Regions from separate parts of the Homo sapiens genome. Here region 2 is linked to region 1. The links come from fine-mapping of genetic effects on gene expression. A gene starts in region 1. The other region holds a variant in brackets. All regions are shown on one strand. Distances are from middle to middle.

Region 1 (5,380 bases):
TTTTTGGCTGGCTTTCCCTGGAGCTCACTCATGTGGCTGAGAGCTGGTGGGCTGCATAGCTGGGACAGCAAGGCTTTCTCTTCTCAGGGTCTTTCCTCTTCAAGGAGTTGGACCAGGTTTCTTCATGGCAGTCTCAGGATAGCATTTCAAGAAAGCAAGGAGCAAGGCACAAGTGCACATCGAAAGCCCCTGCTTGTGTCATATTTGTTCATGTCCCAGTAGCTAAAGGAAGTCACAAGGCCAACTCCAGGGTCAACGTGGGAGGGAGCTACAGAAGGACAACTCAGTAGGGGTGATTCATTAGAAGCCATTAGTGTAAAATGTGTAAACTTTTCCTCTGAGACTTGCATTGCAAGATACACAACTCTAACCTATAAAGGATGACACTTTCTTTTTCTTTTCTCTCTCTCTCTCTTTTTTTTTTTTTTTTTTTTTGAGACAGAGTTTCACTCTTGTTGCCCAGGCTGGAGTGCAGTGGCATGATCTCAGCTCACTACAACCTCCGCCTTCTGGGTTCAGGTGATTCTCCTGCCTCAGGCCTCCCAAGTAGCTGGGATTATAGGTGCCTGCCACCACGCCCAGCTAGTTTTTGTATTTTCAGTAGAGACGGGGTTCATCGTGTTGGCCAGGTTGATCCCGAACTCCTGACCTCAGGTGATCCACCCACCTCGGCCTCCCAAAGTGCAGGGATTACAGGGGTAAGCCACCACGCCCAGCCAAGGATGGCACTTTCACAGACACAATATCTATGTTATTACTACTATAAGGGAGCATGTGGAGTCACCTTATTAAGGGACTGAGTCCTACATCAGTGGCTCTGCTTGCCTCATAAAATTATTCATTAATTTTTAGCAGTGGCCTTGGGAAGTTGTGTACATAATATTTAGAGGAAAATGGCATTTACAATGATAATGAATTAAAGCAATTCACACGGCAGTACCACTGCCCCAATTTAAACCTTGAGGCTTGCTAATTTCATATTTAGCTGCATCCCATATGCTCCCAATCCCTCTGCCCTAGTGTGGAGCTACAGCTCAAACTCCTTTGAAGGTAGGAAACTTACCTCACACACGCGTGTTCCCCTCATTCTTTCAGCGCATAGAACACTAAAAAGATGCTCCTTAAATACATGCTAAATAAACTGATCAATAGTTGCCTTTTATTAAATATCTTTGTGTTTCAGGTATTTCCTTATTTCCTTCACAGACCGGATCATGAATGATCTCCCAATGTGACAAGGTCTTATTCTCCACAGTTTACCGTTGAGGGGACTGAGGTGCAGAAAGCCCAAGGTGTATGCAGCCCAATCCCCTCTGATCCCACTCTACTGCATTGCTGCCTTTTGTACGCAGCAGGAAGGACACTTCCTGTAAAAATGAAAAAAAAAGCCTTAAGTTGTTTGAGAGAGGGTCAGGAAGAAAACAGGAAGAGCCAGTAGACTGCAGGTGCTTTCAAAGGGCTCCCTGTCTTTGACATCCCTAAAATAAAAACTTGTTAATTAAGAGATTGGCCACAGAAATCCAGGTGGAAAACCTGCAGAAGAGTGGGTTCCACAATTCTTCAAAACAGAACAAAAAAACCCCAAGACTTGTTATATTTTTACCGGTGGAGGGGAAGAGGTTACAGGAGTGGCCTTGCTCCCCGGGCTGGCCTTGCTGAGCAGGTGACAATACCACACATATAAAGGTTTTAAGGTGAAAAGGTAGTCAATATTTTACATTTCGAAGATAGTTTTTAAAATCACCTACTGCATCAGTAGTAATACAACAATAACTACCATTTACATACCACCGCACACATCGGGGCTGCGTAAAGAACTTTATAGTGCACCATCTCAATTAATTCTCACAACTCTGTGAAGTAGGTTTTATTATTCTTAATTTATAGACGTGTTCACTGTGGGCCAGGGAGATGAGCTTTCCCGCGATTGCCCAGCTTTTAAGAGGTAGATCTCAAACCTAAACGTGTTTGACCAAAAGCCCTGAATAACATTTAGCCGTGGGCCTCTTGCGGATTTGGCGCTGGTCCGAGGTGGGGAATTGTGAATCTCATTTATTTATGCTGAGCTGCGCACACATATGCACGTGTAAGTTACAAAAAACAAATCCAGGTCAGGATCTCTGTCCGCTTGAGGTTTCAAAGCCTACTTGGGTAGACAGCGGTAAAAGTCTCAACTCATTCATCTACTCGTTTGCTCTCTTCACAAGTATTTATTGCGCACTTCAGTATTCCAGACAGGGCGCTAACCTTGCCCTGGAGGAGAGAATGGTGAACACAACAGACATGGCGTTTGCCTCCAACTATCCCCTTTCCGATTCTGCTATCTCACGGGCGAGGCGTTCAAAGAAGCAGGAAATATATCAACAAGGGGGTGACTTAAGCACCCGCTGCGCGGGAGCCGGAGGAAGCGCGCTGAGCCTGCAGAGGTGGTCAGGGCGAACTTCCTGGAGGCAGCGGCAGCAGCAGGCCGGGCGAGAACCCAGGTCGCTCGGAAGCGACAGTCTGAGCCGGGAACGGGGAAGAGGGGGCGGGAGCCGAGGCCCGGGCGGGGGCAGCCAGCGAGTTAGGGTTAGGACGGGAGGATTCGGCTTCCCGGCGGCAGAGGGCGCCTGGCGCTGCGGTCTGGCGCGCCAGAGTCGCCCGCGCGGGCGCCGAGAGGAGAGGCGAGGCGGGGAGCGCAAGCGGCGGCGGCCACTGCCACGTATTCCCGGCAGTGGTGGCGGCGGCGGCGGCGGCGCCCGCGGGCAGGTGGGCTGGGAGCGGCGCGGCGGCGGCGGCGGCGGGGCGGGCGAGCCGGCGGGCGGGCGCGGGGCACGGGGCACCGGGCACCGGGCGGGGGTGCGGCGCCGGGACAGTACGGTTCCCGCCACGCCGGCTCCGCCTCCGCGCAGTGCTGCTGACCCAGGCCTGGGCGCCCGGCGGGTCCCGAGCGCAACTCGTGCGGGCGGGGTTGGGGGCCCGAGGGACTCGAGCTCGCCTGCCCGTCGCGGCTCGAGACGCTGCATCCCGGTTGCTGCGGGGCGGGGGCTGGGAAAAGTTGGGGCGGACCGCGAGCCCGCGGGGCCGGGCGGGAAGTGCGGGTGCGGGGCGGACTCAGGGGCCGGGGGACGCAGTGCAAAGGGCTTGGGCCGGGGCGGCCGGGAGGGCCCCGTATGGGAAGGTGGGAAACGCGGGTCCTTTGAGGACGCCGAGAAAGGGGTGCGCTCAGGGTCTCTGGGAGTGGACAAGAGTCCGGCGGCGGACCTTGCGGGTGAGAAGGGTCGGCGCCTGGGGGTCGGGGAGTAGAGGTGAGGCGGGGGCGGGATAGAGCCTTCCTCCTCCCCCGTTCTTTCGGGACCGACCCTGAGACCCGGGGCAGGCTCCGAGCTGGGTACGCCTCTGGCATCTGAAGACCCAGTGGGGAGTTCCTGTACGGGGTGGGTGGAGGAGGGAGCTGAGCGTTGCTTCCTCTGCTGCTGGGGCCGACTACCGCCCCTCCCCAGCGGCCAGATTCACCTCAGACTGCAGTGCTTTTGCCCTGAGGAAGTTGAGGAGGGACAGCTGAGCGGATGAGATGTTTGGGGTGTTCCAAGATGAGTGGGATTAGGCTGCATGATATCATAACTATCTCCGGGAGCTGTCAGAAAACACTCCCATGTCCTCATACACCCACCCATCCACTCATCCAGTCAGTACTGCCAAGCTCCAGGCTCCCTTGCTCTTTAAGTGACACCTCTAGATCCCCAGAGCCCAACAGCGCATCTGCTCACAGCCTCGAGGGTGGCAAGGGTGGAAGACATGGCCTGCTAGTGTCTGCGTAGGTTGGTGCTTTCAGAAACAAGTGGTTCTGGAGGTGCTGGATGCTTTATTAGAACAACCTGTGTGGAGCCCGTTGACAATGCAGATGACTCATGTTGGCTTTTTTTTTTTCCCCTTTACAAATAAACTTTGTATTCAAGACACCAGTATGCCTGGTCATTTGCAGCAGTGATACGGCAAGAGACCCATAGTGGGCTTCTTGAGCCCTTATTCTCGTCCTAGATGTGTTAGCAAGAAGTTTGACCTTGGATGAGTCACTTGCTCTCTCTGGACTTCTGTTTTCTTATCTGTCACATGGGGTATAAAGAGAGAGCTCGACAGTGTGATGTAGACAGGAGTAGGTTTCTGAGGGACACAGTGAAATCTTTTTTCTTGTAAGGCTGGATCAGCCACAGAAAATAAGCCTTAGCCTGTTCTTATAAAGAAATTAGCTTAGATTTAAAATAAAATATGAGAAGAAATATTGCAAAAAGCAAAACAACAAAAAACTAATAGTAGTTGGTACTCGATTTACAACATGAATACTGTTCTTATGCTTGCAGTTAGTGTACTTGGTTGTCCAGCTATCTACTATAAAGTTGCTCATTGTGCTTAGAAAGTGTGTATTTCACCTGTGGACCCGAATTTTTTCTTATTGTTTAATCTTCAAGCTTGGAGTGGACGCTCAAGCTTGGAGTTGGATTGGTCCTGCTGGGGTTTGTCTGAAGAACATCCTCAGGGTCTCTCATTGCATAATATTATAGGTTTCCTTCTGTCTGACTGATGCTGGGGTCCTTGTACAACTATGCTTCTGCCATCTTTTCCATTCTGGCTTGAGAAGTGGTGAGCTGGTTCCTCTTGCCTCTGGCATGCCCAGACTTCTCATTTCTTTTCAGATGAGTGTAGTAAAAGGCAAGCAGTGAGTTAGAGGCAGCACATTAAAAATTGCTCCAGGCAATCATCTGTGTCCCCTCCACCCCGCTCCTGTCCCCTAGACCCCCTGGGCAACTTCTCACTAGAGCTTCCTGGTCATAAGCTGGCCTTGACATTTTGGGTGCTGAGGGCCATCACAGCATTGAAGTGACTTGGCCAGGGTCACACCACACATTAATGATCAAGCCATGGTGCTGGAAGAAGAGGAATTTTTTTTGTGTGTGTATTTTGTCATAACTGAATGTTCCTGTTCTTGTCCATTAGTAGCTTTCAAAATCCATATTGGGTTTGACCACATCATTTTCAGTAATCCTTTTTTGTCAGCTTTTTGGAAGCTGCAGTTAGTGGTTCTCTCTGAGTTTGAGGTAGTGGTATTTTATTATTAAACAATTTTTTCCAAATATTTTTTAAACTACTTTCCTTTTCAGACCAGATGAGGTAGTGTTAAAAATGATATCTTCTCCAACAAGTAAAGGCTTGATTAATTAGGTTGAGTCTTTAAAATATCTAGTGTTTGTGTGTGTATAAATTTTACTTTAATTGAGAAGTATTGATAAAAATCATAATCGTCACCATTTGAGCCCCTGCCATTGAGCAGGCATTGTGAGGTAGGAGTGAGCATCATTTTACAGGAGAGAAAACAAAGCCAAGAGATGGCACGACTCTGGTA
Region 2 (5,380 bases), 46 kb after region 1:
ACTGTTTACATTTACTGCAAGAGAATATGAAGGCAGCACAGCAGCCAGTACCAACCACTAACATGAACAAAGTCATCTGAGACCATCTGGCCCAGTGGAGCAACCAGATGCCTATAGCCACATACATAAGCCAGGCAAGACCAGAAGAAAAAGCCCAGCTGAACTCAGCACTGATTGCTGACCCACCATACCTTGAAATGAAATGTTTGTTTGAAACAAAACAAAAAGCACGGTAAACCAAGATTTATCTTTACGTATTTTAGTAATGATAGGCATTGTACCATTACTCAATTATGTCTTGCTTGTTATGGACACTTTTTGGAGTCTCCCACCTTTTTACTTTCAAGGGAACTCTTATTTATTTTGCTTTATGGGTAATACCCATACTAAAAGCTCCTTTCCCCCAGTATCTGGGCTTCCAACTTAATATTTAATGCCACTGAGGTTTTGAGTTAATTTGTTGGCTGTCCTCTGTGGCTGTCACACATCTCTCTTCCTTTCCTCTCTGATGTTATGGGACGGTAGTTCGGATGCCTGGGTCACTTTCTCATCTTTTATTTTTCCCAAGGCTTTGGTTTAAAAGCCTCTGTTCCTTCACCTTCCGCGTTTGTTTCTTTTCTAATCCCAAACCTGTATCCTTCATTTTTAAATCAGTGATTTTTGATTGCAGGGAACAGCCATGGTCTCATGGCGGCTTAAGTTAGCAGCGAGTTTGTTGTAGAAATCCCAGGAATACAGGAAGCAAAGCTTGACTGCCTGCTGGGCACAGGAGTGGGAAGGCCCCTCTAACTCCATGCAGGGGCTGCTTGGTCCTGTCCATCACGCACATGCACACATGTGCCAGTGTATCTGTCTGTCTGCCCTTCTGGAGCAGGGCGGTGACAAGTGTCTATCCCTAAGCCAGTTGGGAGAGGGGAACCGTGTGACTGCCCTCTCAGCATGGGCTGAGGGGGTTCCAAAAAAGGAGTCTGTGGAGGGATACCTCCCCAGCAGCTATTATACCCTTTCTTCTAATTTCTCAACAGGAATAACTCAAGTCACCTGTACTGGAAATCAGTTTGCTGAAATTAATCAACGATTCTTGAAGTTGAAGAAAAGGTAAACATTCTCTTATAAGGGAAACTCATTGTCTGGGGAGAGGTTACTGTCCCAGTCATTTCTCTCATATGCCTAGTTTTGTGTGTAATATTTTACCCCTTCTCTCTGCCTGGCCAAGTTCCTCTTCATCCCTCAAGATCTTTATCAAATGCCACCTTTGTCCTTTGTGGAGGATCTCCTCCAGGCTGCGGGTGATTTCTCCTGCTGTTGAACCCCCACGACACTTTCTCCTTCCTGTGATGTTTGTGTTCTCGTTTGCCCTTCCCCTGATGGTCTCACCCTTCCTCTCTTGGCCAGTCGGGTAGAGGTCTGTGACACACCCCCCATCATAGTACTTACTTCCACGCTTTATTCTCGTTGCCTGTTTTTGTGTTTTCCCCAGTAAGCTGCTTAAGGGTGCATCTGAGTTGTGCCTGGGACACAGTCGGTATTCCATAAATGTTTCTCGAATGACTCATGAAGGAGCCTCTCCACAAGAGGCCTGCTCCTGTGTGGACCCACATTGTACCCCCACCACGCCTCCCTTACTGGGCCTGTACTAGGAATCATTCTTAAATACATTATGATCTTTGAGCATTCATCCGAAATTCCTGATCTTCGCCAGGTGTCCTTTGGCTATTGGTGAAATGAAGCTAATAGCAAAGCTTTTGTATCTGATACTTTTTTTTCACATTTGATTTTGGACCCATGTTAAGAGCAGGAATCCAGAAGTGGGGAGGGAGGTGACAGGCAGAGCTGGATGCCAGTGGTCACTGGAGCACAGCTCCCCAGCCCCCTTCTCCGCTTGTGGCGGGTGTGAGTGGGGGTTGCATGTGGGGGGCTTTAGGTCTCGCTGTGGTTGTAGCCCCTCCTATCTGCTGCACAGGTGGATCACCTTCTCCATCTGTGCCATGCTCTCGACTGCTTCACTCAGTGACTTTGTGTCTTAACCCACCTCCCTGCCCCCAACCTTTGTCCTTTAAATGAATAAGTCAGCAGGTTCCTTTTCTCAAACTGTTTACTGTAACTGCTAAAGATCCCATAAAAGTTTCTTATTAATTTTATGAGTTTATGCATCATAGCCAGAGGGACAAAGCATAGATTGTGGGTGTTCCCAGAGATACAAATTTCCAGAGATTGTTTTGCGTATTCATCTGCAC[A/G]TTGTTGTCTGGGTTTGACGTGTATTGGGCTTCAGTGTGAGGCTTTTAATATGTATATCCTGTTATCAATTAAGAAATTATCCAAGTGGTTGAATCCTGTGAGACTTCGCAAGTGTGTGCAAATCTAGTATACTTGACTTTTCAACCTCTTCTTTCAATGTAACTTTTATACAAAATAAATAATCAACTGACAGTTCTCAAAAAAAAGAAAATCAGTTTAATTGGTCACCATCATCTTGGAAGACTTGACTCAGCCCTTTCTGCCTAACAGTAACCAGCAACTGTCTCTCACATTTGTAGAGTGCTTTCTCTTTTGCAAGGTGCTTTGACACACGTCGGCAGATTTTCTTCTCCCACCAGTCCTGGGAAGCAGGCAGAGGCAAGTGGTAACTTCTCATTTTCAAAGTTGGGAAATAAGCTCAGAAGTTCAATGTCTTGCATAACATCATGAACTGATGTGAATGGGGTTCAGTTCCCCCCAACCATCTGATCTTGGTACCCCCCTTTGGAAGCCATGGCAAACTAACAGTGTCACAGAACCGTCTCTACCCTCAGTGTTCCTTTGAGGGAGGGGAGTCTTGACCTTCTGTTGAGAGTCTGACCCTGGTGCTCCCTCCACCCTCAGCCAGGCAGCTTTCTTGAAAAAGCAGATATGTTCCTCCTGAGACCTTCCAGTCAGTCTTGAAAGTTTTGTTTTTGTTAAGGCTAATTTAAATACAAGAAATTTAATTAGCTTACATGAATGCTGCATTGTCTTACTCTGAGTAAACTGGAAGACACTAACAGGTTTGATCAGCTTAATTCAGCTGTATCTGATGATGTTCTTTCGCTTCCTTCTCTTTTAAATCATTGCAAATGGTTTCTATCAGTCAAGGCAGCAGAGCACAGTGCTTTATTGCCATGTGGAATTGTTTAGTTAACTGTGATTTTTAAAAAATTGCTCAACTTTTAATGAAAGTGGATTGTCAGGTGACATTTTGATTTGTCCTTTGATGGGGAAATGGGAAAATAGAACCATCATAATAAAAAACCAGCTTCTATTCTAGAAGGGGGGCTATTAAAAGCAGGATGTGATTTCAGTGAATTGTTGTTTTCCTAAAACAGGCCACCATCTCTGGTCTTTTTATGTTGAGAGACCTTCCTCTGATACTCTCTTAGATTAACATTTTCCTGTGGGAAATTCTAACCTGGAATCCCCCAAACAGGTTACTCCCCATAGTGTAAGCGTTGGGGCCCAGGACCAGATACCAACACCCTTTTACTGGGAATCTGAAGCATCAGTATCGAGAAATCTGCAAGCCTATCGTGATGCTTGTAATCAAAGGAAACAGGCTTCACATTTTACTTTTAGTTGTGGCATGATGCAAGCACCATTTTACTGTTAAGGTTATTGTTTTCTTAACCCCAAAGCTGGATCTGCATTAGTGAGGATCCTCATAGAGGCTACCCTCATGTGTCCTGGCTGAGTGGGGTTCCAGGTGCTCCTCAGTGGTTGTGCCCACCTTGAATTGGCACAGTGGCAGGACCTCCGACACCATGAGAGGATAGACAGGGGTCACCTCTGAGGCTGGCCCCAGGACTCCTCTGTGTTCTATAGCATTCTTACACCCTTTATGGCAGTTAGCAAACTTGGTATCTCATGGGCACCTCAAGCTTACTGTGTCCAGATTTTAACTCTTGGTCTACTTCTACCATAGTCCCTTTCTAGGCCTCCTCCCTTCCCCCATCTTATTAAGGTACGTAGTTGTTAACTCACTTTGTCAGGCCAGAAACTGGTACTTCATTTGTTAATACTCATCTTTTTCTTCCCCCAAATCACCAAATCCTAATGATGCCTCTCCTAAAGTACATCTTGAATTCATCCATGGCCTTCCTGTATCCGCCCCCCAAGTCCAAGCCAACATCGTCCTTTGCCAGGTGACTGCCAAAGCCTCTTAACTGACTGCCCTGCCTGCTTCCCCTTTTCTTCTATTCCTCTCATCAATTTGGACCCAGAGCAATCTTTAAAAATTCTTGTCAAATCATGTAATTCCCTTGCTTGAAACCTGTTGGTGACCTCATCCTGCACTTGATGAAACACATAAGCCCAGTGCAGCCCATGGAGTGGACTGCACTGTCTGGGCCCCAGGCCTGGCTACAGAGGCACAGCATTGTTGGCACCATGTTGTTGTAGCTTGTGAGACATTCTCCCCTTCACTCTTGACTTCCTAGGAAGATTGCAGTGACTTCAATTTTCCAAACGCAATAAAATAACTCAGGCTCTCAAAGGTGTACTTAGAATGAATATTGTGTTCTGGGAAATGGAACAAGGAGTGATTTGTTCCTCCAAACACCAGAATAACAACTCCTAGAACACAGAGGTGGACCACTATTTCATTTGTAACCTTAATAAGTTAATAGCCAATAAGTAATCAGCTGAAATTGCAATACTCCTTGCTACTCCCCAAGCAACCTCCCCATCCCCCACCCACATATTTTGACATAAAAATGTGCAACAGCATTTTAGCTCATGAAATCTTGAATGAAACTTGGTTCTAGGTTGGTACAAGAAAAGACTGGCATTCTATTATACAAGGGAAAAAGAAAGCTAAATATTAGCATACAGCTTTCCTTTTTAAATATGTTTTTCCTATCTTGAAGCCGATTTGTTTTCCTTAGTCTTGAGCTTTACTCCTGTGTGTGTCGGAGGTCCTGCGTGTGCTGCCGTGCACACATCTGAAAAGCACGTACCTGAATTTCATCTTAGGCATGATACTCTCCATTCTCAGGCCTTCCCCAAGGTAATTAATGGTAATATTGAAACTCCAGCTGGATGTTTGGTACACTGTGGCCTGATGAGTTACAGCAAAGTTTGTAATGGGAATACCAGCAAAGGTGATTTTAATAGTGTGATGAGCGTTGTGATAGAGTTTATTACCCAGAGTCCTGGGAACACAGAGATGGCCCCTCACTCACCCTGGGGGATGGAAAGTCATGTGACCCTTGAGATGGGTCTTGAAAGAGATGCCAAGTACCAACTGCTTGTTACTTTTTTGCCAAGCAGAAGGAATGCTTGGGAGAATAGGGGTGCAAAGGGCATTTCAGACAGCTGCATGGATAAAGGCCTGGGAGGTCAGCAAGGGTGTGGCATGCCAGAGAACACT

Evidence for each region.
Region 2: its variant is fine-mapped to the expression of SMCO4 in whole blood (INTERVAL, PIP above 0.99).

Annotation. Positions count from the first base shown.
Region 1 is chr11:93,540,644-93,546,023 of GRCh38, reverse strand. It overlaps SMCO4 (single-pass membrane protein with coiled-coil domains 4), which reads left to right and starts at 2,633. Exons shown (of 3, transcript NM_020179.3): 1 at 2,633-2,748. RefSeq lists silencers at 2,433-2,562, 2,723-2,772, 2,903-3,142.
Region 2 is chr11:93,494,994-93,500,373 of GRCh38, reverse strand. SMCO4 (single-pass membrane protein with coiled-coil domains 4) reads left to right here. Exons shown (of 3, transcript NM_020179.3): 2 at 1,026-1,098. Among named protein-coding and RNA genes, the nearest start is that of SMCO4, 46 kb to the left of the region's middle. The variant A/G (reference allele first, on the strand shown) is at 2,238.